Homo sapiens: one gene and its partners. The protein of the gene in region 3 purifies or fractionates together with the protein of the main gene of each other region. This does not show direct contact. Each region holds a gene or a part of one and is shown on either strand. Other genes may lie near its edges.

Evidence for each region.
Region 1: the proteins of PPP6R1 (region 3) and MAS1 purify together in Homo sapiens (tandem affinity purification; one large-scale study listed by IntAct). This does not show direct contact.
Region 2: the proteins of PPP6R1 (region 3) and RAB40C purify together in Homo sapiens (affinity purification with western blotting; one study listed by BioGRID). This does not show direct contact.
Region 4: the proteins of PPP6R1 (region 3) and ACSL3 purify together in Homo sapiens (affinity purification with mass spectrometry; one large-scale study listed by BioGRID and IntAct). This does not show direct contact.
Region 5: the proteins of PPP6R1 (region 3) and AKAP10 purify together in Homo sapiens (tandem affinity purification; one large-scale study listed by IntAct). This does not show direct contact.
Region 6: the proteins of PPP6R1 (region 3) and HTR2C purify together in Homo sapiens (co-immunoprecipitation; one large-scale study listed by IntAct). This does not show direct contact.
Region 7: the proteins of PPP6R1 (region 3) and PDCD2 purify together in Homo sapiens (affinity purification with mass spectrometry; one large-scale study listed by BioGRID and IntAct). This does not show direct contact.

Annotation. Positions count from the first base shown.
Region 1 is NC_000006.12:159,889,301-159,893,863, reverse strand, and holds the start of MAS1 (proto-oncogene Mas), read right to left. Parts: upstream 2,877-4,563; 5' UTR 2,731-2,876; exon of another isoform or gene 2,681-2,730; intron 1-2,680. UniProt on the Homo sapiens protein: Receptor for angiotensin 1-7. Acts specifically as a functional antagonist of AGTR1 (angiotensin-2 type 1 receptor), although it up-regulates AGTR1 receptor levels.
Region 2 is NC_000016.10:613,835-617,884, reverse strand, and holds part of RAB40C (ras-related protein Rab-40C), read right to left. Parts: exon of another isoform or gene 1,621-4,050; intron 678-1,620; coding exon 617-677; intron 1-616. UniProt on the Homo sapiens protein: RAB40C small GTPase acts as substrate-recognition component of the ECS(RAB40C) E3 ubiquitin ligase complex which mediates the ubiquitination and subsequent proteasomal degradation of target proteins.
Region 3 is NC_000019.10:55,245,182-55,249,231, forward strand, and holds part of PPP6R1 (serine/threonine-protein phosphatase 6 regulatory subunit 1), read right to left. Parts: intron 1,929-4,050; coding exon of another isoform or gene 1,923-1,928; coding exon 1,696-1,922; intron 498-1,695; coding exon 311-497; intron 222-310; coding exon 84-221; intron 70-83; exon of another isoform or gene 5-69; coding exon 1-4. UniProt on the Homo sapiens protein: Regulatory subunit of protein phosphatase 6 (PP6). May function as a scaffolding PP6 subunit. Involved in the PP6-mediated dephosphorylation of NFKBIE opposing its degradation in response to TNF-alpha.
Region 4 is NC_000002.12:222,867,345-222,871,394, forward strand, and holds part of ACSL3 (fatty acid CoA ligase Acsl3), read left to right. Parts: intron 1-4,050. UniProt on the Homo sapiens protein: Acyl-CoA synthetases (ACSL) activates long-chain fatty acids for both synthesis of cellular lipids, and degradation via beta-oxidation.
Region 5 is NC_000017.11:19,908,147-19,912,196, forward strand, and holds part of AKAP10 (A-kinase anchor protein 10, mitochondrial isoform 1 precursor), read right to left. Parts: intron 1,833-4,050; coding exon 1,780-1,832; intron 1,131-1,779; coding exon 1,035-1,130; intron 1-1,034. UniProt on the Homo sapiens protein: Differentially targeted protein that binds to type I and II regulatory subunits of protein kinase A and anchors them to the mitochondria or the plasma membrane.
Region 6 is NC_000023.11:114,901,739-114,905,788, forward strand, and holds part of HTR2C (5-hydroxytryptamine receptor 2C isoform a precursor), read left to right. Parts: intron 1-4,050. UniProt on the Homo sapiens protein: G-protein coupled receptor for 5-hydroxytryptamine (serotonin).
Region 7 is NC_000006.12:170,574,497-170,578,468, forward strand, and holds the end of PDCD2 (programmed cell death protein 2), read right to left. Parts: intron 3,222-3,972; coding exon 3,063-3,221; 3' UTR 799-3,062; downstream 1-798.

The DNA of each region.
Region 1 (4,563 bases), on a different chromosome or scaffold from region 3:
AGCCCTGGTTCCTTTCAGTAAATAATTATATTTAGAAGCCAAGATCTGGGTGTAAAATGTGCTCATTGCATGGAGGCTGTCGCTGCTCCCAGCCCCTCTCAGTGGCAGGGCTAAGGAATATATGTACATAGATAACATTTATGTATAGTCATACATACACACACCTATGGCTGTATTTCTATGTCTTTTTATATCTTTATAAAATATATACATATAATCATAAATTGACACCAATATCTCCAGTTTTGACCCACCACCAGTGAATTCATTTGAGTTTTCTCCCTCTCCATATTTGTAACTCCCTTCTCTGAGAAACCTGGCTCCCTTGGCCCTCTATGCATTTACTCATTTGATCAACCCACCTATGAATGGTTGCCTATGTCTGCCACTGCTCTTCCCCTGCCCCTGCACAGATGCCCTCCTCACTTTGTTGGGCCCTTTTACTTCCTGTTGGACCAGTGCTCCCCCTGCCCCCTACCCTGAGACACAGACCTCACACTGCAGGAGCTCCAACACCCAGCACCAGTTCCCTGTACCCCCCATGCAGATATCCTGCCCTGCCCAGCACTGACATCCCCTGCCATGTCACCACTGCCACTGCCCTCACCCCGGCGTGGCTGCCCCCATGGGGATGATCCTTGCCTATTCAGGCTCCAGCACCTCACACAAGACACCATAAGCCAGGGTGACCATGGTGGAAAGTAGGACTTAACACCCACCACCTTCCTGCAAAACTCAAAGAATTGTGGGCAGTATCGCATCTGAATGCAGAAGAGACTTTTGAGAAGAGGGGTTTTGACATTGATCAAAGTACAGTGCAGAGGCCACAGCCTATTCTGCTTGTGCCTACGGCTGCTTGGCCTGGGAGCTGCACTTTCAGTCAAACTGACCATGAGAGGCAAGTCCTCCATCAAGCAGATTAACCCCACTGGGTCTCAACTGCTTCACATGCTGGCATTTTAATGTAGTTTGAAAGGCTGGGGTATAAGAAATGCTAGAGATTGAACAGCACTTTGCCAATATGAGTCTCATGGAAATGCCAAACTGAGATAATGAATCAACAAGCAGGGAAAACAAGCATGGTGGTTTCCATTGATGTGTAAGGATGTGGGCTTTGCAGAGCCTGTGTCCTGCCAGGTCCACCTGAGATTGCTGGCTGCAATTACCTCTCAATGAAAGTGAGAGGAACAGATGGGTGGTGGAGCTGATAGAAAAAACAAGGAGACTCAGAGTCAGCAGAGAGTTCTAAATGCCATACATTTATGCTGCTCAAGTGTTCTCTAGAGACCTCAGAAGCAAACAACCCCTTCCACATTCCCATTCAGTTGAGCACAGTCCTTCCATGGCCCCAGATACCCAGCCTAGGACATCACTCTTAGAAGAAAGAAAGAGGGGGCTGGGGAGAAAGGCAGGGAGAAAAAAGGAAAGAGAGAAAAGCCAATAAAACTCAGGCTGGGGGAGTGGGCCATCTGAAAGCGCCTGTTGTTCCCAGGCAACTTAAAAGACAGCCTGACCCTAGGCTGGATTTCTAGGTGTGCAGATCCAGAGAAAAGGGCAAATTCTTCCCTGTGTGTGTGTGCAGTCACCTGGACAAACAGAAACCCATTTGTGAGATGGAATTTCCATGGCAGGCAAGGGCTCCGATGGGAATGTACAGGGCAGGACCATCTGTCCTGGTATTAAATGCATCATTCCCGTCTTCCCCACACTAGGGCCATCTGTACGCAGAAGCAGAGACTTCTTGCTCCCTTTCCAAACATACCACAGGATCAATTTAGAGCCCTGGTCTAAAAGGGGGGAAGGTGATTTTGTCCCCTAAGGGATGTTTGGCATGCCTGAAGATATTTTTGGTTGTCACAATGGAGAGGAGTGTGCTACTGGTATCTAGTTGGTAGAGGCCAGAGATGCTGCTAAACATCCTATAATATACAAGACAGCCCACACGGCAAAGAATTACCCAGCCCAAAATGCCAGTAGTGCCGAGGCCGTGGCACTCTGCTAGAGGCCAGCTTCTTACCACCTTTTTACTGCTGCACCCATAGCAATCTAACAACACACTATACATTCTCTCACCAAATTACTCCTAAGTATCCTGGCTGGGAAGTGTTGCTAAGACGCTCATACCAAAGATCAAGACTGGGCAGGAGATTCCTTTTAACAGACATCTTGTCACCAAAGGAATGCATACGGCTTCATAAGCAACAGAAGCTAATACTGATGCCAGTGCCCACTAAGGAAAAATGAAGAAAAATCAATACAGCTTGCCCCTGTGATGCCAAAGAGCTGATAGCCAAGTGATTTCTCCAGAGGAATCAAATTCAGTAACAACTCTTTCAAACCTCAACTTCTTTATCATTCATAAGCTTTCATTAAGCAGCCTTGAAAACCTCCAAGTCCACCATTCAAACTGTGAATTGATCCTAAGATTCTTTCCCCTGCAACGAGTTAAAAAAGAAAACGCTACTGCGAAGTTTCAACCCTGAAGTTGAAAAACAATGTCTGGGAACAGTTAACTCAGCAAAGAAGTAAATTTTCCAAAACAAAGGCAGGAGGAAAGAGAAGTTTTTGCCAACACACACCAACGGCAAACATCTAACACACCGAAAAAAATAAAAGAAAGAAAAACCAGCACAGAAAAGAGTTATCCAAGAAATAGCTTTTTAAAGAGAGAAAATCTTACTCTGGTTGTCAAGGACAGCTAAGCAATGAAAAACTGGGACGCAGACTCACTGGTGTCATTTGCTCAGGAAGGGTCAGACGTGGCCAACAGGTTGGCTGCCCCTTCACATCTGGGGCATCAATGCCCAGCCAGCCTGCAGGGTCTCCGGTCCCAACATCTCGAAGGATGGCTGCAGCCTCTCATCTCTGAAGGAATCAGAGCTGCTCTCCCACTGCTGAAAATATTTGAGATGTGCCAAGCAGATGGTCCCACGCTTATCAGCAGAAGCTTCCAATGGCATCATTCAGTGACACACTCAAGTGAAAATCTTCACGCCAATCCAGAGCGGGGTGTGAGCTGGTGATAATGCAAGGCAGTGGATCACCTTGAACCACTAAGGCCAGCCAGGGCTAAAGAGAAAGATGACGTGGAGAAATGCCACATGGAAGGGCAAAACCGCATGTGTAGTAGAAAGACAGAACCATCTCAAATTCCCAGCTCAGTTTCTAATAAGTTATGTGACCTCTGCCAAGCTCTCTAAGACTTGGTTTTCTCATCTGTAAAATGGAGCTAATAATATTAACTCAAAACCTAGTAATGATGAGATGAGTCTATGTATAGACCCAGAGAGACATACGGGAGACACATGGCTAGATAGTTAAGGATTTGTTCCCTTCTCCAACCCAGTTTCGGAGAGTATCATGCTCAGTGTAGTATATAAGACCCGTAGGATGCTATGAAAAGCAAGCAAGCCAAGGAGTGTGTTCAGGGGTGAAGGCAGGGGTCTGCACCATTGGCCATGCCCAGACTGCGTCCCAGCCTGGTCCGGGGGCTCCTCCTGGGAGTAGCTGTTTCTGTTAGATGCCAACTCTCACCCGTGCAGTCAGGAACATGAGAGCAAATTCCTTTTCCCCGATCCCTGTTCTGCATTTTTTGTGTTTTTGTTGTTGTTGTTGTTTGGTTAGGTTTTTTGTTTTTCTACCTTTTAAAAACCAAAAATGGCCAATATGTTACCCATTTTTCAAATAACTCAATGTGAAGCCCCAAAGGCTGAGAATTCTGGATCTCTTGGATCTCAGGTAGCCAAGTCTGAGATCCCAAGCCTGAAGACCCACCCCTCACTCAGGGTAGCATTTTCTCTTGTTTAAAGGGATTCCTTCATAGATATTGTGCCAAAGTATTAAGAACCTCGGGGACCAACTATATCAAAAGGGGTAAGAAGGCAGTTTCAGACTCTGTGGGAAAGCAGACATAGGAACCCACAGATGAAGTTCCCCTCCGACTGTTTTCGTAAGCAGGAAGACCATAGTCCCAGGGCAGAGCCAAACTACTCTTGTGGGAAGCCTGACCAGCAGCTCGGCCCTCCCAGTGGGAAGAAGAAAGGGGAGAGAAGAGAGCTTCCCCTGAAGCCAGCAGGCATCTACTGGGTAGGCAGTGCTGAGCAGCAAATCAACAGACCAGGTGAACTCGGTCTTGAAGTTGGAAAGGTGTTCTCATTACCTGGTTCTGATGCTCCAAGGAAGGAGAAGTTCAGCCTCCTGAAGAACTTTAGTTTCCCAGAGGATGGTCAGAAACTAAAAAGGAAACAGGCACCATCTAAAGCAGACTGCAAGGCAGAAAAGAAGGAGCACGGGTGGGAAAGGATCAGACCCACGGAAGAAAACATGATTAGGGAAAAATAAGAGGCTGCCCAGGAAGCTTCCAATCCCAGCAGGGGAGGAATTGATCCCGAAGGAAATGAGGGATGAAGGAGATGGGATACGACAGAGGGATCCTCTCTGCTCCACATTCGCTGCTTCTCAGATCAGGGGCTGCCCAGATGTTATGAACATTTCACCCTGTCCCCATGGGTGCTGTGAAACCCTGCGCAGAGTGACCAACTAGAAGGAGGACTCCAACGTCAT
Region 2 (4,050 bases), on a different chromosome or scaffold from region 3:
AACGCTGACGTTCTGGGAAATGCTTTTTTTTTTTTCTTTTTTGAGACGGAGTCTCATTCTGTCACCCAGGCTGGAGTGCAGTGGTGCAATCTCAGCTCACTGCAACTTCTGCCTCCCGGGTTCAAGTGATTCTACTGCCTCAGCCTCCTGAGTGGCTGGGACTACAGGCGCCCGCCACCACACCTGGCTAATTTTTGTATTTTTAGTAGAGATGGCGTTTCACCATGTTGGCCAGGCTTGTCTTGGACTCCTGACCTCAGGTGATCCTCCTGCCTCGGCCTCCCAAAGTGCTGGGATGACAGGCGTGAGCCACCACACCCCGCTGGGAAATGCTTTTTAAGGTGAAGCCGACAGAAGGGGAGGGAAGGGGCTCACAGCCACCACGGAATCAGGTTTTCCGGGGCAGGAGGGGAGCCGCGATCTCTAGGGACACAGTGTCCCAGACTGTCTTTTTCCTGTTGGAGTAAAATCCATTCTATGTTTAAACAGGGGCTGTGTAAGTGGCTCTTCCAAGTGAAATGCAAACAGGACGCCTTCCTGTTTCTCTAAGGGTTCTGTTCTCCCTTCGGCATTTGTGTCCTCACCCAGGAACTGAAGTGCCGCAGCCCCAACTCACCAGAGCTCCAGCTTCACGCGCCGGCCGTCCAGCAGGATGGTGGTGGTCTTGTAGTCGATCCCTGCGAGGAAGCACAGGGCGCTGAGGGGACGCGCCACTCCTGGAGCGAGCGCCCGCGAGACCAGCCTCGGCCACTGGCCTCCCAGGGCCAAGACCCACGCGGAAGTGGAGAAGCAGCTCCCCCACACTCAGCCAGTGGGGCAGGGGGAAATCTCGGGGCTCTGGCCCAGCAACCCAGGCCTGCCCACTTCTGCACACGGGCCACGGGCAGGGCGGGGCAGGGCAGGGCAGGAGCGTGGTCCATACAGTGTCAGGCCATCGGGCCCCACAGCCTAGCAGGCCAGCCTCTCCATGGGCACGGCTTGCCTGGAATGGGGCCTCCGCCTGTGGCCCGCGCTGGGTGCAAGGCACAGGGCCTCTCCCTCAGAGGGCATTGGGCAAAGGCAGGGCGTGGACTCCAGCGTGCCTGGAGAAAGGGCAGTGCCTTTATTTCCACCCTGACCTACTTCGTATGCATTTTGAAGTTGAATTCTCCAAGGCGAATGTATTTCCAAGTCTCGGCTTACTGCAGCCCAGGAACTGCCAAGGTTGGTGTTAGGGAGGGCCAAACAAGTTTAAAAATGCTGCTTCTGGCCGGGCGCGGTGGCTCACGCCTGTAATCCCAGCACTTTGGGAGGCCGAGGCGGGCGGATCATGAGGTCGGGAGTTTGAGAGCAGCCTGACCAACACAGTGAAACCCCGTCTCTACTAAAAATACAAAAAATTAGCCAGGTGTGGTGGTGGGCACCTTTAATCCCAGCTACTCGGGAGGCTGAGGCAGGAGAATCACTTGAAGCTGGGAGGTGGAGGTTGCAGTGAGCCGAGATCATGTCACTGCACTCCTGCCTGGGTGACAGTACTCAATAAATAAATAAATAAATAAATAAATAAATAAAATGCTGCTTCTCCGGACTCTGGACTGACCTCAGACAGCCACCAGCCTGCCTGCCACATTGGTATTTTTTTTTTTTTTTGAGACAGAGTCTTGCTCAGTCACCCAGGCTGGAGTGCAGTGGTGCGATCTCTGCTCACTGCAAGCTCCGTCTCCCGGGTTCACGCCATTATCTAGCCTCAGCCTGCTGAGTAGCTGAACTACAGGCGCCCGCCACCATGCCCGGATAATTTTTTGTATTTTTAGTAGAGGTGGGGTTTCACCGTGTTAGCCAGGATGGTCTCGATCTCCTGACCTCATGATCCACCCGCCTCAGCCTCCCAAAGTGCTAGGATTACAGGCGTGAGCCACTGCACCCGGCCTTTTTTTCTTTTTTGAGATGGAGTCTCACTCTGTCGCCCAGGCTGCAGTGCAGTGCCACAATCTCGGGTCACTACAACCTCCACCTCCCGGGTTCAAGCGATTCTCCTGCCTCAGCCTCCCAAGTAGCTGGGATTACAGGTGCCCACCACCACAGCCGGCTAATTTTTATAATTTTAGTAGAGACGGGGTTTTGCCACGTTGGCTAAGCTGGTCACAAATTCCTGACCTCAGGTGATTCGCCCGCCTTGGCCTCCCAAAGTGCTGGGATTACAGGTGTGAGCCACCGTGCCCGGCCCACATCACATCATTACTTTTTATTTCCTTACAGTTTTATAGGAAAAGGTCAGTCCAAGAGAAACTGAAAGGAGCAGACAGTTCTGGACACTTAACGCAGGCACGACATCTTAAACAGGCTCTGGGCCCTCTGGAAACTTTCCAGAAGCTTCTACCTTTAGGGCTCAGCCCCTTCCCCCACCTTAGAAACACCATTCACGTTTTGTCTTTTTATGACACTTTCTCCAAGGGGCTTGGAAACGGGCACTTTTTAAACATAAGCGACGCCCTCCCACGGAGTGCACCTGCCCAGTGGGCTTGTGTGTGTGTCTGTGCACATCTGTCTCTCCGTGCGGGCCCAGCCCTGCAAGCCAGCCATGCGGTCTCTCTGCCTACGGTGCCCTTCTTCAGGCATCAGCGCTTCCACCCACACCGTCCTTCTGCCTGACCAACCCCTACATGTACATCAAAGGCTGTTCTCATGCATCGAAGGACACCATCAATGGACAGAAAAATGCAACCCAGAGATGGAGGGAAATGTCTGCAGATCACACGTCTCCTAGAGACTGATCTCTAGACTCTACAAATAACTCCAACTCAACAACAGAAAACCAAACGTCCCAATTTTAGGATGGACGGATGGTCTCCCTCGGGTCCTCGTTTCCAAGACAAGAAGGAACAATGGTTGTGCCAAAAGGGCCACGGCTGTGAGCAGCCCATGACTGCAGGAGCTGCACCCAATGTGTACCCAGGGACAACGCCATTAAGCAGTTCATCAGGATGCGGTAGAGTTAGGCAGTTCACTATCGGGACGAGGTAAAGTTTGGCAGTTCACCATCGGGATGCGGCTGAGTTAGCAGTTCACCACTGGGACGAGGTAGAGTTTGGCAGTTCACCGTCGGGACGAGGTAGAGTTTGGCAGTTCACCGTCGGGATGCGGCAGAGTTAGCAGTTCACCATCAGGATGTGGTAGAGTTAGGCAGTTCACCATTGGGACGAGGTAGAGTTAGGCAGTTCACCATCGGGACGAGGTAAAGTTTGGCAGTTCACCATCGGGATACGGCAGAGTTAGCAGTTCACCATCGGGATGTGGTAGAGTTAGGCAGTTCACCATCGGGATGCGGTAGAGTTAGGCAGTTCACCATCGGGACGAGGTTTAGGCAGTTCACCATCGGGACGAGGTAAAGTTTGGCAGTTCACCATCGGGATGCGGCAGAGTTAGCAGTTCACCATCGGGATGTGGTAGAGTTAGGCAGTTCACCATCGGGATGCGGTAGAGTTAGGCAGTTCACCATCGGGACGAGGTTTAGGCAGTTCACCATCGGGACGAGGTAAAGTTTGGCAGTTCACCATCGGGATGCGGCAGAGTTAGCAGTTCACCATCGGGATGTGGCAGAGTTAGCAGTTCACCATCGGGATGTGGTAGAGTTAGGCAGTTCACCATCGGGACGAGGTAGAGTTAGGCAGTTCACCATCGGGATGCGGCAGAGTTAGCAGTTCACCATAGGGATGCGGTAGAGTTCGGCAGTTCACCATCGGGATGCGGTAGTTAGCAGTTCACCATCGGGATGCGGTAGAGTTTGGCAGTTCACCATCGGGATGCGGTAGAGTTCGGCAGTTCACCATCGGGATACGGCAGAGTTAGCAGTTCACCATCGGGACGCGGTAGAGTTAGGCAGTTCACCATCTGGATGCAGTAGAGGCCGCAGCCTTGCAGACATTTTGGAAGCATCTGCGCCGACTGTGTGCTTCCCGAGCTGCGTGTGAAGCTGCGTCACTGCCCCAGTGGTGCCCTTCACAGCAAGCCAGTCAGGAATCCTGCTCCTCAAGTCCAGGGCTATGCACGTCACCCAAGTCTAGACCTGGG
Region 3 (4,050 bases):
GCCACTGAGGGTGAGAAGGCGAGGGATGCATCGCTGTCCACCACGCCCAGCCCCCCACCCCCAGAGGAGCCGGCCCTGCTCACATTGACAACATCCTGCCTCAGCTGAGGCCGCTCCACACAGGTGAGCAGGCGCAGCAGGAGGTCCATGATGGCCGAGGTGCCAATGTGCTGCAGCAGCAGGTCCACGAAGTCATCCTTCTTCCGAAGAAAGGACACGAGCTGGGGGCACACGGGCTGCGTCATGCACAGGGCCTGGCCCAGCCACCACCCCTCAACCCACGGTGGCGCCAGGGTGGGGGCCAGGGCACCTGGTCTGTCTTGCGGTTGATGAGGATGCCCATGACCTTGCTGAAGAAGCTGGCCAGCAGTGGGTTGAGGCTGCCGGTGCTCTGCAGGAAGCCGTAGAGCCGGTTCAGAAGGGACTCATCAGCACCCAGGGCATCATTGATCTGGGGCACATCTGAGGTCAGAATCTCGCAGGCCACACTGGGGTACCTGGGAGGCAAGCACAGGCGGGTGGGGGCTCGGGTCGGAGGCCGGGGGCAGGGGGCGGCAAGGCTCCACCCTCTTCTCTGCACCGGGCACTGGGTTTCTGGGAACTGCAGAGACCCCTGTCCAGGAAGGGGAAAGGGCAGAGGACAGGGTGACGCAGAAACAAGGGCCCACACCAGGCCTCCTCCACCCTGCTAACACCCAACCATCCCATCCTAGGCTCCTTACCACCCCCAAGACAAGCTGGTCCTGAAGCTCCTGCGCTTCCCAATCCCCCAGCAGCTAACACTCATCCCTTTTGCCTCTCAGCGGCTTCACTTGCAACCCCGTATGCTGCCCCAGCTCCGGCTGACTCCTGGAACCTTGCTCAACTTCCAACCTCACCTCCTGCCTCCCTCCTCCAAACTTTCACACGGTGCCTGACGGCTCCAAGACAAGAGCTGCCCCACCAGCGTGCCACTCAAGGCCCTGAGGGGCCACAGTCTGCTCCAGGACTGTGGGGAGGTACCCCTTGGGAGGCTGAGGCAGGCATATCACTTGAGGTCAGAAGTTCAAGACCAGCCTGGGCAACATGGCGAAACCCTGTCTCTACCAAAAATACAAAAATTAGCTGGGCGTGCTGGCTTATAGTCCCAGCTACTTAGGAGGGTGAGGCAGGAGAATCACTTGAACTTGGGAGGAGGAGGTTGCAGTGAGCCGATCATGCCTCTGCACTCCAACCTGGTGATAAAGTGAGTCTCAAAAAAAAAAAAAAAAGTGTCTTTTCAGCATCGCTTGGATTAAAAAATAAGTAAAGTGTCTTCAATAGCAGACAAGTGTTTCACAAACATACAAAAAAAGTTTAATAAAAAGTAAATAAAATAAAAGGCGGCGAATAAAGAGAAAAACCAGCCGGGCATGTCGTCACATGCCTGTGGTCCCAGCTACTCGGGCAACTGAGGCGGGAGGATCACCTGGGCCCGTGAATTTGTGGCTGCCGTGACCCGTGACTGTGCCACTGCCCTCCAGAGCACAGGCTTGGTCTGCACCCGGTGAGCTGTGAGGCCTTGTGCAGGAGCCTGGCTGCTCCCAGCCTCGTCTTCCTCATCCCCAAACTGGAGTTTACTGACACTGACGCATTTCAGGGTAGCTGTGAGGCTTGCGTAGTGAAGGTATGTGTGATGCTGATAGGGACGGGCTGGCCAGGAGCTGGGGAACTCACTTGTAGCGCAGCCGCTCCTCACCGCTATCTGGCGGCTCCTGGGTGACCCAGGCCACCATTGCTTGCAGGTGGGGTGGCTGCAGCAGGAAGTCCAGCAGCTTGCGGTTGACGACCTTGCACTCCTGCAGCACGTCTTCCTCGTCCAGCAGCTCGGGCAGGCTCAGGTCCTCCCGCTCCAGCAGCGTGTCCAGGTGCGAGCTTGTGTGCAGGTCAAACTTCCAAAACATGGCGCCCTGCAGGCATAGACACAACCAGCGCCGCGTCAGACGCCCCAGGGAGTCCCCACTGGACGAGGCACTGACCACAGGGGCTGAGTGCCCACCTTGGGCACAGCCTCTCCCCAAGTCCCAGCCCTCTGCCTCATGCTGAGCCCGGCCCCGCCCCGGGACTGCCCGCAGGCTCACTGCCTCCATCACTCAGGCTTAAGGCTCCCAGTGAGCACCAGGCTCCTGCAGTTGCCCTCGAGCCTGCCCCTCTTCCCCCATCTCCAGCCTCCCGGCCGCCTCGCCTGAGGTCCAGGGGGTCATTTCACACCTGAGGCCTCAGGCCTGGTGAAGTCCCCAGGTGTGGACCATGTGCAGGGCCTGCGAGAAGAGGCTGGACCCTGTGCACTGAGGGGCCTCGGGCCCTGTCTCCCCATGAGGGTCTGGGTCCACTATCCCTACTTTTGGGAGAGACACTGCAGAGGCAGGGCCTTAACCTCTGGCTTCAAATTTGCTTCAACCTGTATTTGCTCAACAAACTCAGATGCCCGATGACTTCCAGCACACGGCTGCTGCTTGGCCCAGCAAATCCCCCAAGGCTACGTGGGAGGCATGGGGCGGCGGCAGGGGGAAGAGAGGAAGTCTGTGCATCTCCAGGCTGTGGCCGTTGCCTGGACACCACTCACACACAAACACACCCCAACCATCCTCTCACCCAGCACCTGGGCTGGAACAAGGAAGAGGAAAAGTTGGAAGGGAGGGGCTCCCAGAATAGTCACTGACCAGGACCTGAAGGAACCCAGGGTGGGATAGACAGATTCTGTGGGGGAAGAACAAAGCTGGCAACACCCGGCCCTGACCCTGTCCCCATCTGGAGCTGGCTCCCGCCCTCTGGAGGACAGTGCCTGGTTCCTCAGCCTGGTTCCAGCCCCTAAACGCTCGTGCATGGGAACTCACTGGCAATAAGGAAACACACACAGAGTATTAACAAGATGCCAGGCAACTCCATTCTGAGCCCCTGCCCTGTACTACATCACTGCTCCGCAGAGCCCTAGAAAGCCTCCACACAGACCTTCCACTACAGACCTGACCTGTGACCTGTGCTCTGGGCACTTGATGACAATGGTCCTGGCTCTGCATGTGTGCTGTGCACATGATGTCCAAGCTCACCAGCAGCCCCCAAGAAAGCTGTCATCACTCCGCCACACAGGACAAGGGGCAACCAAAGCCCGGTAAGTCAGGCGGCATCCTGGAATCTCGAAGGCCATCTGGTCCCAGCAGACAGCCTTCACGGAGCTCTCACCAGTTAAGACACTGACCAGAGCTCACGCTCATTACCTGCCTCCTGACAACCGCATCACCAGCTAAGGCAGAGGCCACTGCTACCCCCAAGTCACTACAGAGGATGCTGAGAACAGAGCAGAGCCGGCACAAGAGGCCAAGGGTGCCTCTCCCGCAGGCCCTCACCACCATCACTCCCAGGCACAGATGCTAGTCCCTCTCCTCCAATGCCCTTCTGCAGCTTCTTCCAGTTCAGTCATTCCCTCTGCACAGGCCTCCACCATCTCCTCGAGCCCTGCTGACCTGTCACCTCAGTGCCCACCAGCCCCCAGGCCTGACTCAGCCCCAGGCCCCAGGGAAGAGACAGGGAGACGTGGAGCACCAGGCCCAGGGAAGAGACTTCATCGGAGCTTAGGAGAGCAGCCTGGGCTGACAAAACGCAGGACAGAGTCCCACACATGGCCTCAGGCAGGTCGAACGCCTCTTGGGCCTCCTTTCCTCTCCTTCCTGGCTAGCTTGAAGCCAGGCCAGCCTGGGGCCAGGATCTCCTTGCTCATCCACCCTGACCACCCTAAGGCTGGGCTCAGCACAGAAGGTTGCAGTCCAGACCTTGCTCCCAGTCTGCCCGTCTGCCTCGGTAACTCTAGATTGGCAACAATCTTGATATAACACTATATGGGTCCCTACACCTGGCCAATGACAGTTGAGGGTGGAGCAGAGGGAAGAGTTCCGTGACCAACGACAGTCATGGCGGCAGCAGGAGGACTAGGGGAGATAGCAGCAGCCTCCAGGCATTTGAACCCCTGCTCCTCTGGGGGGCCTGCCAGGTCCCAGTCCACAGCACCCAGTGACTCACCACTTACCCCTCACC
Region 4 (4,050 bases), on a different chromosome or scaffold from region 3:
TTAAAGAAACCCACTCCTTTCCCCCAAATCTTACAGCTAACCACTGCTCTGAATTTGGTGTTTATTATTCCTATGTATTTCTGTACAGCTTTATTACACATGTGTGTTTCCTTAGACAGTGTATAGTATTGTTTTGTGTATTCTTAAACTTTATATAGATGGTACTGCATGTATTCTTGTTCAGCATACTGTTTATTTTATCCCCACTCAAAATCACTTAGCAGTGTGGTTTCATGAATTGAGTTTCAACTCAATTCATCAGTGTGGGTTCATGTAGATTTAGGTCATTTATTTTTACTGTGACAAGTTAGTACATTTTAGGTCTATACCATATTTATTTCCCCTTTGCTCTCTTGATAGACTTTTAGGCTGTTTCCATTTTTTTTGTTATTACAAACATTATTACCGTTAAGTATTATTGAACACAAGTCTTTGTTTTAATTTTTGACACTGTAGTTAACCTGTGCTCCTTTTTCTCTGTTCTTCACATTTTTGTCTCGGCCTTCCTCTAATCGTTTCATTATTTGAGCTAAGGTACCATTCTTTGTCCATTATACTTAACAGTACAAAACTGTAATGGGCACTTTTCCTCGAAGGCTCTTTTTAGTAATCTTTACTTTAGTTAACTTTCTTTGCTTTTTTTTTTTTTAAATAAAAATATCTTAAAATATAGAAATATCTTGAACATATTTTACAGATATATATTATTTTACTTGTAATTCCATGCATGACTGCAGGGATAATTCACGTGTACCCTTTCTCTTGGGAAACGTTTCTGTGTTGATGTACATTTGATTTAGCTAATTCTGTATTTTAGTGTTTGTTTCCTTTAAATATTTTCCTCTAAATGTAGTGCACTTTTTTCATTGCAGTTTGGTGGGTAGGAACATGAGCTCAGAGTTAAGATTGCTTGGATTGGAATCCGGGCTCTACTTTTTAGCTGTGTGTCTTTGGGCAGCGTATTTAATTTCTATGTCTCAATTTCTTCATCTGTAAAATGGAGATAATAGAAATCTACCCGTAGATTGTTGTGAGATTCAAATGAGGTGTCTGGCATAGTCATTACTCAATACATATTAGCTATTTTTATTAGTTTTATTTTTTGTTAGAGTATGCAGTATTTTCTAAGCCTACTCAGTTTGTGGTGTTGCCTTCTTTTTTGAAGCAGCATTTTAACACAGACATCTATGCCTCAAGGAAATGTGTGATGTTTTATAACTGTTAGTGGAGATTGGGAAGAGATACTGTAAACTGTAGCAAACCATAAGTTGAGGTACATTAACTAGATTGTTATATTTTAATATCAATAATTTAGGATTTGGTTGGGCATGGTGGCTTATGCCTTTAATCCCAGCACTTTGGGAGGCCGAGGAGGGCGGATCACCTGAGGTCAGGAGTTTGAGTCCAGCCTGGCCAATGTGGCATGAGTCCAGCCTGGCCAATGTGGTGAAATCCCGTCTCTACTAAAAATACAAATTAGCTGGGTGTGGTAGCGGGTGCCTGTAATCCCAGCTACTTGGGAGGCTGAGACAGGAGAATTGCTTGAACCTGGGAAGTGGAGGTTGCAGTGAGCCAAGATCATGCCATTGCACTCCAGCCTGGGCAACAGAGGGAGACGCTGTCTCAAAAAAAAAAAAAAAATTAGGATTTATCGTGTTTCAATTTTTTTGAAATACGTATAAAGCACTTTGAAAGTGAGTTGACATGGTGAAATTCTCAGATAATTACCAAGGGTCTACTCTTGTTAGTTTTAAATACCTTTTGTAATATGACCCTGATAATGATTCAGATGGTGTTTCTAAGTATATTATCCTATGTCATCAACCTTGTGTTGTTCAGTGGAGAAGGAACCATTGCCATCCATGTATGTAAAGCTTCATAGGTAAATTTGAGCGAGTGACTTAACCTTTCTCAGCCTTCCATTTCAATTTCTGTAACATAAAGATTTCAATTCTTACCTCACAAGGTTATCATGACTTATGTTAGTTGCTTCCTTCATCTCTCTGGCTCCCCTGTCTTCTCTTGTAACTTCCTTTTTTTCTGTTTTCCCTATGTATATTCTTTCTTCCTCTTTATCCCTTCTCTGCCCTTCACAAGTAGTTTTTTGGTAAATGGTAACAAGACATTCTGAACCAGTGTGTGAGTGAACCCATTATATTAATAAAAATACACATTATTTAAAGGGGACTAGGAAATGTTAATTCTGTAAGGACAAGAGGATTTAGGCCATATGAAGTTACAGAGGAGATGCTGTAAATGTTAAATGAGCAGTATAAAGGACAGAGAGGTCATGTTTTGCCACAGTAGCCAGGGAATGGTCAGCTGAGCAAAATGAGACTAATGTTAGATTTGAAGAAAGATTTGTGAGGAAGGTATTCACATAGGATGTCCAGTGGGCAGTGGAGTTTGGAAGATTGGCAAATAAAACTGAGCCATCAACTGCTTGGGAGGACTCAGGAAGCTGTGAGGATAAATCACATCCCATGGGGAAGAAAGGCACATGGACTTGGAGGACAAAAGCAATTAAGACCTAGCGTAACCTCTTTATTTATTGATTAAACTCTGAAAGTAGTTGTTGAATGAATTAAACCTTCTAGGAATAGAAAGGGAGAACTAGCAGCTAGCAAATGGAGAGAATTGAGTGGCTCTGAGTTGTTGCAGGAGGAGCTTTGAAGGTCTGGCCCGAGTTGTTTGTAACCCTGCCGTTGAGACTGGTGGTGTGGCATTGTCTGTGCCATTTAGTCTGACTGGACTTCTGGTTTTTTTTTTTTTTTGGTCTGTAATCCTTTCTTGCTTTTGGGGGATGGAGAGGGATCTGCTTCATCACTGTTCTTTTTACCTCCTTTTCCCCCTCCTTTACTTGACTCAGGATTTTTGTTACCTGTGCCATATTTATTTCTTAGGTGTCTTTGACTTTATCAGTTAGCTTTGTGCATTTCCCCATGTATTCATTGATGTGTTTACTACCTGGAATTTAATGGGGTGTTTGCATGAGTCTCTTCCTCTTTTGACATCTCAATAAGCAAGATTCTCATGGAAACCATCTCAGAGGCAGTGGGCAGTAAATAGATGGAGTGAAAGATGAGGCAGAACTGTTTCTCTGCATTCTATATTGAGATGTACAATTGTTTAACAAATAATTACAAAAGAAAATGAGTGCCATGAGAGAGTGCCCTAAGGGGTCAGCGGATGGGTAGAGAAGTTCAGGCTGGGGCTAGGGCCAGTGGAGGTTTGGGTATCAGAGAATGCCTAATCAATTTAGATGCTAAGAGATAACTAGGCTTTGAATGTATGCAGAAGAATAAAGGACATTCCAGGTAGAGCTAACAGGGCAAAATGAGCAAAGGCAGAGAAGACAGGTAAGGGAGACAAAGAAGTGGATGGAATTGATTTGTTTGTAGTGTGCGAAGTAGAGAGTTGGAAGGTGAGAGTTGAAAAGTAAGCTGACTTCAAGTTGTGGAGAGTCTTAAGTACTTGGCAGACGAGTTTGGAATTGTTTTTTATTCCTTCTTTTTTTTCCCCTTTTGGACAATGAGGAGGGAATTGAGATTCTTGAAGAGAGGATTGATGTGAAATACGGGTTATAAGGGAGTGGCAACGTCACACTGGCAACATGAATGAAGGATGCATTGATGGAGGAGGGGGAGAGGGGACTAGAGACAGAGGAATAGTTAAGGATACAGTTGAATTCTGCCAGGTGACAGGAGTAAGGACCTGAACTGATAAAGTAACACGTGAGAAAGGGCAGGAGGCAGGGGATGACAGAGGAAGCAGAACCATCGGGACTTGGCAACTGACTGGATCTTTGCAGGGCAAGGGAAGGGAACATTACCAAATGCTTTTTAAGTTTTGAGTAAGTTCTAGAAATGGGAAGAGTCAGCTTTCCATTTGAGTTGGGAAAGGTGAAAGCAGAGTGACAGTAGAAGATGTGGAAAGGAGAATTCAGTTAAAAAAATTTATTTTTAAAAATGCGAAGTGGGATAGCTGGGATCTCCTCAAAGAAAGCCAGATGAGGGGTCATCTGGGTAGGCGATGGTGAGATCAGGGAGT
Region 5 (4,050 bases), on a different chromosome or scaffold from region 3:
GAGCCACTGCGCCCAGCCTGGACGTCAGACATTCTAACTTTACACTGTGAAGTGCTGAATTTTGTTGTGTTACTGTAAAGAGGGTTAGGCCTTTGTTTTGGCATGCAGTTGTTAGGTAATTTGACCCTTTAAAAATTTGCTTTGAAACTTGGTTCAGGTGCTTGTACTCTAGGACTAATTTATCTTCAGTAGTAAGGCATAACCTCTGTGAAGACACTACCCAATGCCTTGTGTATTACTAAGTCTCTCTACTCTGGCCAGATCCTTCTGGCCATGAACTTTTCTTAGCCCTATGTTCCAGCAATCATTCAGCCTACTAATTTCTGGGGGGTTCTCTACCTGGACACATGCGTTTTCACCCCACACATATACAGATCACTCCTAGGCCAAGGATCCATGGGAATCTCTCTAAATATCTCTACGGCTTTCTTTCTGGGCAGCTTCCTCTTTTCTGCTACCTTATCCTACAACTTCTACTCAAATTGAGCTCTCTGAACTTTGATTTTTTTTTTGAAATGGGGTTTCGCTCGTCGCCCAGGCTGGAGTGCAGTGGTGTGATCTCGGCTCACTGCAACCTCCGCCTCCCTGGTTCAAGCGATTCTCCTGCCTCAGCCTCCCAAATAGTTGGGATTACAGGTGCCTGCCACCACACCCGGCTAAGACAGGGTTTCACCATGTTGGCCAGGCTGGTCTTGAACTCCTGACCTCAAGTGATTCACCCGCCTTGGCCTCCCAAAGTGCTGGGATTACAGGCGTGAGCCACTGCACCTGGCCTGAACTTTGATATTTAACTCTTTCGTTCAGCAAGACTACTGGGCTCTGTTTGGTTTCCATGGTTTCCCTGTATTGCCCATTGTCCAATATATGCAAACAGTTGTTTCATTTAGTTTGTCAATTTTCTAGTTGCTTATGATAAGAAGGTAATCCCCACAGCAGTTAATCCTTCAAAGGCAAAGAAACCCCTTATGTTCTTTTTTATTTTTACACCTGGAAAATAATACTTTTTAGTTTACACAAAACGAAGTCATCCTTACCTTTGTAGATTTCTCTAACGGTTGATCATACTGAGCCTGCTGCATAATGTCACTGACTATCATTTTAGCAATCTTCCAAGCTAGCTCTTCCTGGGCCTAAAGAAAATAATTTAAACTGGTGATAATGGTTATTCATTAGATGGATCGAGATGCACATACTCAGTGCTCTTAACAAATGGCTTACGCACATAATTTCTACTTATTTGGATAAGAATTTCATTCCCATGTACGAAAAAACCTGGGCCACCCTCTGGCTATGAATATTAACATGTCATTCCCTGTCTTCCAGTGTCAACTACTGGATACCTAACACCGAACTACTTTCATATTAGATGGTCAAAATAAAACATTTTCCTTTTTTCACCTCCCATCTCTCAATGTACTTAATTAACTATTAAAAAAGCAAGCCTCCACTACTTGAAGTAAAACTGCCAGTGGGGAAGGAAACATTTGAGCTTTTGATCTACACACTGATTACTGATGCCTGCTGGCTGATGGAAACTTGAATGCATGTATATCCTTCAGTGGTCCTAGCCTCTGACTGAAGATACCTTCACTGCTACTACCAGGCAATTGTTAGATGTTAAGAAGGGACCACCCTTTCTTGGTACATTCTGGGTAAGAGAACATAAATGTGCCATGCTGCTTAAACATGGGACCTAAAGAAAAGGAAAATTTTAAACCTCACTTACATGAGGGTGGCACTTATAAACAGAAATCTTTTTATCCTAAAGGTAGGATTTACCTCATCAGTATTTCCTTGCACCCATTTCTTCATAGCTTGTGAGAACATGGATCCTAGTAAACAAAGACAAAATTGAATGTACATTTCATGCATAATTTTACATTAAAAATGCTCTTATTTGGCTGGCCATGGTGGTTCATGCCTGTAATTCCAGCACTTTGGGAGGCCGAGGTGGGTGATTCACCTGAGGTTAAGAGTTCAAGACCAGCCTGGCCAACATGGTGAAACCTGTCTCTACTAAAATAATAAAAATCAGCCAGGCATGGTAGCAGGTGCCTATAATCCCAGCTACTCAGGAGGCTGAGGCAGAAGAATTGCTTGAACCTGGGAGCAGAGGTTGAAGCGAGCTGAGATCGTGCCACTGCACTCCAACCTGGGCAACAGAGCGAGACTCCAACTCAAAAAAAAAAAAAAAAACCACTATCACCACCACCACCACAATGCTCTTATTTAAAAGCTGTTGCTTCCAGATATGGATATTCTTTTTTGTGTGATACCCCAAAACACTAAGGAATGTTACATTAATAAAAACTGATTATATTGCTTACATAACAGAGCATTTAACTTGCAAACATCATGGCTTGAAAAACTTTTGAAAAGGTGTTTCAGAGTTCTGGACTTTTCTTCTACTCTCCTCACTTGATGAAAGAACTAACATCTAGTGTTAGTTTGTGGCAAACATTAAAAAACAAAACAAAACCAAACCAAACCCTAACCAGGATAATGCTCTTGGGTAAGAATCTAGCAATACATTGGGAGACACCAACACATTTGTTATGTTTTCAAACCTTCCAGACCAGCTCCTATATAAAAGGGCTTCTAAGACAGAGTATGCTGCTACATTCTAGTTCTCTAGTCTATATAAACTAGCTGGGTGAGAGAAGAGTTTCAAAGAGCTCTACTCTATCCAAGCCAGAGTACGCCTTAACTCCCTAGGATGTATAAGCCCACATCTGTAATCACATGCTGAGAATCATCCGAAGTAGGCCAGCCTCTATTTCTATGAATGAAATACACAGCTTACTTTTTTATTTAATAATTTGAACATGCTCACTTCCTAACTTTGCTTTAAAACAAGTTAATTGTTGGTAGATTATTTCTTGAGGCAAGGTCCTGTTTAATTCAATAACTGAATTCATAAAAAATACAAAACCTGGATCCTTTTCCCTCAATTTTTATTATTACCTAAGGGTTTAAATATTGGTTTAATGAAATTTTACTGCCAACCAGAGTCTACAGAGTCACAGTGTTAAATGCTCTGCATGAAGGCTCAACTGGCTGTTGAATCACCCCATGCACTGTTCTCTCGTCAGGCCCCCCTGCAGAGTCACTCTATTGACATGTTAGAAAACCCATGTTAAAAAAACTCAATCTACCTTCCCAATTTACACATGAAATCTGCCACCAAATTTCACCTTAGAATTCAACCTTGGACATATCATAAATCCGACCTTCCCTCTAATTCTTGCTACCACTACCTAACTTTGAATCTTTTTCTTCTCCTATCAACATTACCAGCTAATTCCACTGGCTGACTGGTGTCCCTCATGCCAGTCTCTCCCACCTCCAATTCATTCTCATTCTACTGACAGGGAAAAGCATCTGGTTAGAACTCTGTTTAGAAATCTCTGGGCTGGGCGCGGTGGCTCACGCCTGTAATTTCAGAACTTTGGGTGGCTGAGGCGGGAGGATCACCTGAGGTCAGGAGTTCGAGACCAGCCACAACATGGAGAAACCCCGTCTCTACTAAAAATACAAAATTAGCCAGGCGTGGTGGTGCATGGCTGTAATCCCAGCTACTCGGGAGGCTGAGGCAGGAGAATTGCTTGAACCTGGGAGGTGGAGGTTGTGGTGAGCCGAGATCACGCCATTGCACTCCAGCCTCGGCAACAAGAGCAAAACTCTGTCACAAAAAAAAAAAAAAAAAAAAAAAAAAAAAAAAAAGAAATCTCTGATGTCTACATGATGGGAGTCAGTCTAAGCTCCTTAAAATGACATGTAAGGGATTTATCAATTTAAGTACAGTTTTGTCTCCCACCAATGTATCGAAGCACAAGGGATTGCCACTACATTGGGCACGTGCTCATAACATCATTTTACAATTCCTTCTTGTTACACTGTCTCTTAGATGATTTTAATGTAACTTCTTAAGTTATCTTGCTTGCCCTTCTCATAATCTCAGAAGGCTCTTTTCAAAACTCAATCTTGGCTGGGCACGGTGGCTCACGCCTGTAATCCCAGCACTTTGGGAGGCTGGGGCGGGCAAATCAC
Region 6 (4,050 bases), on a different chromosome or scaffold from region 3:
AAGGTTTGCAGCACAACATGAATTATAACTTACCTTTGTTGGTTCTAAAATTCTAAGGAAGATGATACAGAGTTATTGAAGTTAATCTCAGAAAGGTTAAGTGATTCCACCTAATAATTTATTTTTTTTTGTCTGGATTGAATAAAATATATATAAAAGTATATAACAATTGTGAAATATGTGGCTTAGTGCATGACAAATAAGCCCTCAGTAAAAGGTAGTTATTATTATTGGAATTATTGTTAGTGACACCTGATATTTTCAATGGTAGTTCATATCTAGTTTTCCTCTTTGGCCAAATCAGGAATTTCAAAAATATTGAAGATTGCCTCATGATATTTGCTAAACTTACTTAATTTTTCTGAAGTTAACTTCATCAAATAACATGTGCCTTGCGGAATTTTTATAAAAATGAATGATGAATTTAAAGTGTTTTGTTGCCAGTATTGCTGTTATTTATATTTACCAGACATGATAATATCGCATGAATTACTATTGGTTGAAATAAAAATGCTAAGACAAACTTAACACATTTGCTGAACTTAACTCTCTAGCACTTAAATAACTTAATGCATTAACATAGAACAGCAGTTCTCAAGCTCTTTGGTGTCAGGACCCCTTTATACTCTTCAAAATAATCGAGGACTCCAAAAGAGTTTTTGCTTATGCGGCTTATATTTATTGATATTTATGGTATTAGAAATTAAAACTGAGAAATATTTAAAATATTTAGGAATAATTTTATTTTCAATAATAATAATAAACCCATCTAAGGTTAACATAAAAACATATTTTTGAAAACTATAATCTCCAAAACAAATCAGAGAGAAAACAGGCATTGTTTTACAGTTTTGAAAATTTATTGTATTTATTTATTTATTTATTTATTTTAGATGGAATTTTGTTCTGTCACCCAGGCTGGAGTGCAGTGGCGGGATCTCGGCTCACTGCAACCTCTGCCTCCTGGGTTCAAGCGATTCTCCTTCCTCAGCCTCCCGAGTACCTGGGATTACAAGCATGTGCCATCATCCCTGGCTAATTTTTGTATTTTTAGTAGAGACTGGGTTGCACCATGTTGGCCAGGCTGGTCTTGAACTCCTGACTTCAGGTGACCTGCCCACCTCGGCCTTCCAAAGTACTGTGATTACAGGCGTGAGCCACTGCACCCGGCCCACAGTTTTGAAAATCTCTTTTAATATCTTGTTTGACAGAAAGAAAGCTAGATTCTCATATATGTATCCACATTCAAACAGTTGTGATATGTTGTTTTGGTTGAAATTTATGAAGAAAATGCAGTTTTAAAGACAGTTAGGAAAGGAAAACCTAGCAAGCTTTCTAACAGTCTCAGACACCCCCCTAGGGTCCTTGAATCACACTTTGAGAACTGCTGACACTTACCTTTTATTTTTTTTTAAAGTATTGAATAAGACAGTGTACAACATATATTGTTATTAATGCTGCTTTTGTTGTTGCTTTTTATAATTTCCTCATATGTTTGAAATAACTTGAATTTCTTCTTGTTTTGTTGATTGCATTCATGGTTTCTAAAAACAAAAGAAAATTAATGACAGTGCAGATTTGGTAAACTGGTTAAGCTACTTTGCCAAATAATACCTGTCTTATAAAGTTTTTAACCAAATTGAGATAATACATTCTACATCTGTAATGTCAGTAATATACATGGCTCAGTGCCTGGCACATAGGATACACTCAATAAATGGCAGCTATTAGAATCACCCTTTCCTCAATGCACAAAAAATAATACAAATAGATGCCAGGGATAAAATTGGCCTCATCTACCCAATAACAGCTTCAGCTTATCTACAGTGACTTTGCTACCCTCTCTTGCTGTCCCTTGACAAGGCCTACTTTAGGCTCAAGAATCCCTTAGACAAGTGAATAAATCATTTAACAGAAGCGAGCTAACATTACTCTGGAGTTGGTCTCTAAGTGATACAAACTTCCACCAATCTCATGGCCTGTGTGTGAGGCCTTCCCCAGAAACGTCCAAGTGTGTCTATGAATACTTAGAATATATGCAGCATTTCCTGTGGGAAATTGAAGGTACATGCCTCAGTCATGATGCCTCCAGGGTGAAAGCAAATTCCCCAGATTGAGTCTCTAGCCCCACGCTGTAGTATCTAAGGTGCTGGGTGGTTGGCAAGGTAGGAGATTGAAGAGGGAAACACCACTCCTGCATCCTTTATTGCTTTTGCTGTAAGGAACCTGGAAAGGTATAACAGAGTTTCCTATCAACACATTGTCAGAAAATGGCCTTCTTCCCTACAGTTTTATCAAACAGGTGGTTGAATGTTTCTATTTAGGGATCCAAATGTTTTTTTGCTCTGGAAGGAATCACTTCCAAGATTAGCAGTGGCCAATCAGTTTTGGAGACTTTTTAAAATCTGAGGCTTAACAGTGATGTTACTCTGTTTCAGAAAGGACCTCTATGTCTTCTTTTCTCTTTTTTTAAATTGAAAAAAATTATTAAACTTTCTGTTTCATAGTTGACTTTCAAAGATTACAAAGGTAGAATTATAAAATAAAGCCCATGAACTCATCATCCAGCTCCAAGATTTATCAGCCTGTGGACTGTCTTGTTTCATCCATACTTTCATCCACTTCTCCCTCCCGTATTATTTTGAAATAACTCCAAACATCATAATACTTCATCTGTAAGTGTTTTAGTATGTATATCAAAAAATAAAAGAGCTGTCTTTTTATATAACCACAATATCAATACCTCACCTAAAAATTAATGAACAATAATTATTTAATATCATCCAAAGGCCAGTCATTGTTCAGATTTTTAATTGTGTCATGAAAATTTTTAACATGTTTTTGTTTTCATCAAGATCCCAAGAAGATCCACATATTATAATTACTTGATAGATCTTTTAAGTATCTCTTAATATATAAGTTCCCCCTCTAACATTTTCTCTTGTAAATTTTTTTAAAGAAACTCTTTCTTCTTTTAAAAATCTTATATTAACTTTCTGCAGACTAATCCGTCACTAAAATATGTTATTAAGGTTAAGCCAACACTGATGTCTTTAGGGCATGTTTGATCTGTGCTGTCTAGAGATTACCTTACGTTTATGATTTTTCACATAAAGATTTAAACAACACAGTCTGGCAGCTTTCTTAACTGCTTTTTTTTTTTTTTAACTCTTAAGAAATATATTCTGTGTGGTTCTGCTGTACTCTATATTCCCAAATTCCTGTTGAAATTTCCCAGGCATTTCATCAAACTTGGTGAAAAATCACTTTCTCTTTTCTCCTTCTAATAATTGTCATTCCACCCCATCTAGGTGCAAAGGTCTCTGCTTTAGGATCTGGCCATGCACTACTTGAGGTGACTTACTGTTTGCAGTGCCTCCTCATTTTCAGTCTTTCCTACTTTCTTGAATGGTGTGCCTAGGTTCAGAGCTATAGGTAGGCATGGACCAATACCCAGGGAAGTCTTGTCATATCTGTTGTGGCTTCCTCACCCTGTTACTTGGCTTCCTACTCTAGGAAAAGGCCAGTCATTTTAGAAATTCCATGTCTGAGGAAGAAGACTTAAAGATCACTTTCAAAACACTCTCTTCTTTCTATCTTCCCAGAGATTAAACATCCGTCAACATTCTCAGCAAGCTCTAGCAAAGAAGCATTGACTCATTGTTTTTTTTCCCTCTTGATCATCCAGCCAGACACTCTATACCTGACTAGGCATGTTAAAGCAACTAGTAAGGACTTTCTGTTTCAGGTTTGTCACAGTTGCTTGTGTGTTCTCTAAGGTCAGCAAGGATCTCTGAGAATGCATTTCTGTCTCCTCTCACAGTTCATGATGTAGACACCTACCAGCCCAGGATTCCTAATAATCTCTAATGGAACCCCACAAATACAATCTGAACTTCCCAGGCTTCGACTTCCTGTGGACACAAGACAGGACAGCAATCTCTATCTGTTATCTATTTATCTCTATGTATTGATGCAGGACCTCTTGAAGACCTACTGTGGTTATTTCTGAAAGCTTCCAGATATCTTACTTATGCTCAGGCACAAGAT
Region 7 (3,972 bases), on a different chromosome or scaffold from region 3:
CTTTTCTTTCCAATTTACAGGCCATTTAGTGTGTAGAGCTTCTCATAGTCTGGGGTTTGCTAGTTGGAAATTCATGGTGTAGTTTCCCTATTCTCTGTATTTCCTGCAAATTGGAAGCTGCTGTGTAATTCCTAGATCTATTAATTCATTAGTGGGTTGCAAAATGACATTTTAGTCATTTCATTTCTTTTTCATTTATTAATTTGAATACTTTTATAAAGTGTTGTGCTCCATATAGCAGAATACTTTCCCCTTTTAAGTTTTCAAGATAAAATGAGTTCATATTAATATGTCCAATTCAAAGCTCATAGGGTTATTTTACCAATTGTATATCCAATTCAAATTCAAAGCTTATAGGGTTTTTATTTAACCAATTCTGTATTACACTCTTCCTTCTACACTGAGAATTTTTAATTCTTAAAGACATAGGGGATGAGGAATTAGAATGTCCCATAATTACTCATTTACTTTACGTATTTACTTTATCATTACTTTATCTGTTATATGTGCAATTTTTTTTGAGACACGGTCTCTGTTGCCCAGGCTGGAGTGCAGTGGCACAATCATGGTTTGCTGCAGTCTCAAACTCCTGGGCTCAAGTGATCCACCTCAGCCTCTGGAGTAGCTAGCCAGGACTACGGGTGCACACCAACACACCCAGCTAATTTTTTTTAATTTTTGTAGAGACAAAGTCACTCAACTGTTGCCCAGGCTGTTCTTGAACTCTTAGGCTCAAGCCATCCTCCCACCTCCACCATAACATTCTTAAGAGTAACAAAAACACTATCACCAATATGATTGCCAAAAACACTTGGAACTTTTTTTTTTTTTGCTGTGATATCTGAAATTGCCAAAGGATATTCAGTATCTGAAATAAAAAGGCAAAGCTGAATATGCTGCTCTCTACAGCAGAGGGAGCTGCTGTGGCTGGACAGTATCTGAACCAAGCAGATCTTAAAACTTTGTAGGTGTTGAGAAATGGTGGATGCATGGACTGGCACCGTCTGTGGAGCCATGATTATGTAGGTGAGACTTGCTCATTATCTTGTAGTGTTTTAAAATGTCTTCACATTTCTAAAGGCAACTTGCTTAATGCATTTTTTAATTTAAATTTTTTATGTTGTACAGTTTATTTTAAATATAGTTGCTATTTTTTAACACAGATGCCAAGTCGGTGCTGTGAGATTTTCTTTCTGGTGATTTGGACCAGTTTGTCTCCCTCTTGATATATCCATCCCAAATGGAAAGGCCCTGTAAACTGTTACGATCATCTCCAGAGGTTAACTGGAATATACACCAATGACAGCTTGCCTGGGTATGCCAAAATACCTGCAAGAATGTCCACATCATCTGGTGATGTCCCCAAATAACAGTTTTTACCATAGAAAGATCGTTAACATGTTTGCTTTAAAAGTCATTAGCAGTCATAACGTACTTACAGATTCTGCCTATAAGGAATAATACATAATTTTAGATATAAAGGCCCCACTAGTCCAGGTTTCCTTATGCCACTGTGCTTCCTACTAAGTGTTGCGACCAGCTCTTGTCACTAGTTGATGACAACTTACTCCAGTAGCCACAGGGCTGTGACACCATAGTTATAGGTGATTTTCATAGATTTAGCCATCCCAGGTTCGAAACTAGTATCCTCTAGCTCTTAAGTAGCTGATAACCTCCCCATGGGAGAAACTCCATACTGCAGTTTCCCATATGGTGCTATGTATAACTATCTTATACAATTAATACAAATTGCATATGTATACTTATATAATATGGACTACTAGGACAGAACTTTTTAAATTACAAATAAAATAGCCAAGTAGACAATTACATTAGCAAGTGATGTTACCTATGAAAACGTGAGGATTTATGGTGGCAATGCATTTCAGTTAACAGGGATGTGTTAGGGGACAATGTGAGCCAATGTAGATTAAGGAAATAAGCCTGAGAAATTTATCAGAATTAGCCGTCAGTATTCAAGCACTGATCAACAGCAATGTGTCTTAAGGGCAGGCATCACTGGTGCTGAGAGAACTGGGAATTGTCAACTGTGAGCTGCTAGGGGATGGAAGAAACCTTAGTGTAGTCTTAGGAGCCGCTTGCTTAAACAGATGTATCAGAAACATAATAGGCCAAGGGTCAGCCCTTTGAAAACTGACTTCAGGGCCTTCCTTTCCTCAGGCTGCTGCCTCCTAGGCCAGACCCTTATTTTGGCTTACATTCCATAACCCTTGTATGTGCGATAGGGAACCTGTATACAATGCTGACACGGAAAGGGAAGACCATCGCCTTTTGCCTTTCAGTGTCTCATCTGTAAGCAGGGCCGCTGGCTGACCAAGATCAGTTCTGAAGGTCCAGCCTCTTTAAATTCCAGTTCTGTGATCACAAAGCCACTGTTGTTCCTCATCCTGCCAACTGTGATACTGCTGCTTCAGAATTACTGGGTTTCCTGTTCATCATACTCACCAACCTGAGGTTTGGTATTTCTCAAATATTCTGGGCTTCCAGTACATACTAGAGCCTGTGATAATCAGCTAATGATCAGACAAGTTTGTTGGGAGTTTTACCTAAGTATTTTTGTGTTTTAAAAACCTAGGGTGGGAAATGCTCAGAGTGAGATGGTTTGACTTCATTAGGCATATAACCCATTTTTATTATAAAAAGAAATGCACATATAAGTAAAAAGACCATTTTAGTTAGTCCCACCATTCGTTGGTAACCAGTTCACTAAGTGTACATCTTTGCAGATTTCTGTGCATACATACAAATATTTTTACAAGAATAGGATCATACCATGAATACCACCTATAATGGTATGTCTGTTGTCAATATAGGTGTTATAATTAAGACTGTGTAGCCTTCCTCTGTGGATGTACCAAAATTTATTTAATTCCCTGTCACTGGACACTTTTGTTTCACTAATAAGTAGACACTGTGTAAGCAATCTGTCAACATCTCTGCACCTCTATTTTTGGTATAAGTATTTCCTTAGGATAAAATCCCAGAAATGGAATTGCAAGGTATAAAAGATTATTAACATTTTTCAAGGCTTTAAGATGCCTTTACGGTGTATCTGTTACATCCTGCTTCCACACAAATTCTTCTGTATAGCCAGTACCCAAGCTGCAGCTCTCAGCACAGGTGAAGACAGCCAGGATGCCCCAGTCAATGCTCTTGCCCAGTCTGTCAGCCTTCAGGTAGTTTAGGAGCTGAGGCATGACCTGAGAAGAGGGTGACACACAGTTAGAAAGCTGCTTCACAGCAGGGAGCACGAGACCTTCTCAGCCAGGATGATTATAGGGATCTTGGTCTTTCAATCCTCATACTACAAAGCAGGATTATAGACATTATACAATTAACATGTTTAACAATCTAAAACTTCCTTATGACTTCAAAGCCCCTCTCACCTTCTGTTTGGTCTTTTCCATTTGAGAAAGAAGTTCACAAGTGGCTGTTAATGAATTATTTTCATTACTAATATGCCACTCAAAAGGGCTGAGGCTTCTATTTGGGCAACTTTTACTTTGTATCATTGCAGATGTTGTTACTCTTGACTCAAGAAACACTAATTACTAGTAATGAATACAGAAAGGACATCTATCAATGTAGTTATAGAGACCAGAGAGGAATCTTAGAAGTAGTCTAACTCAAAGAGTGAATAGGCAGAATAGCCACCTGATATGGAATCACTTTATACAAATCCTGTCACCTCAATTTGGACATTGAGAGCTTTGGCACTAAGAACCAAGCAGAGTTTTGTGTATGGTCCTCATAATTCCTTTTTTACCCAAAGAAACAAACCAATATTAGCTATGACTTTGGTAAGGTTAGTGAATCCATAGCTCAAGAGCATTTCCACCCTACCCAAATGGATTTTGATGCTAACAAATCCTTTTGGGCAGGGAAGGACATTTATCTTTAATGCTTATATCCATTTTTTCTAACAAATCCACAAACCAAGATTAAACAGTA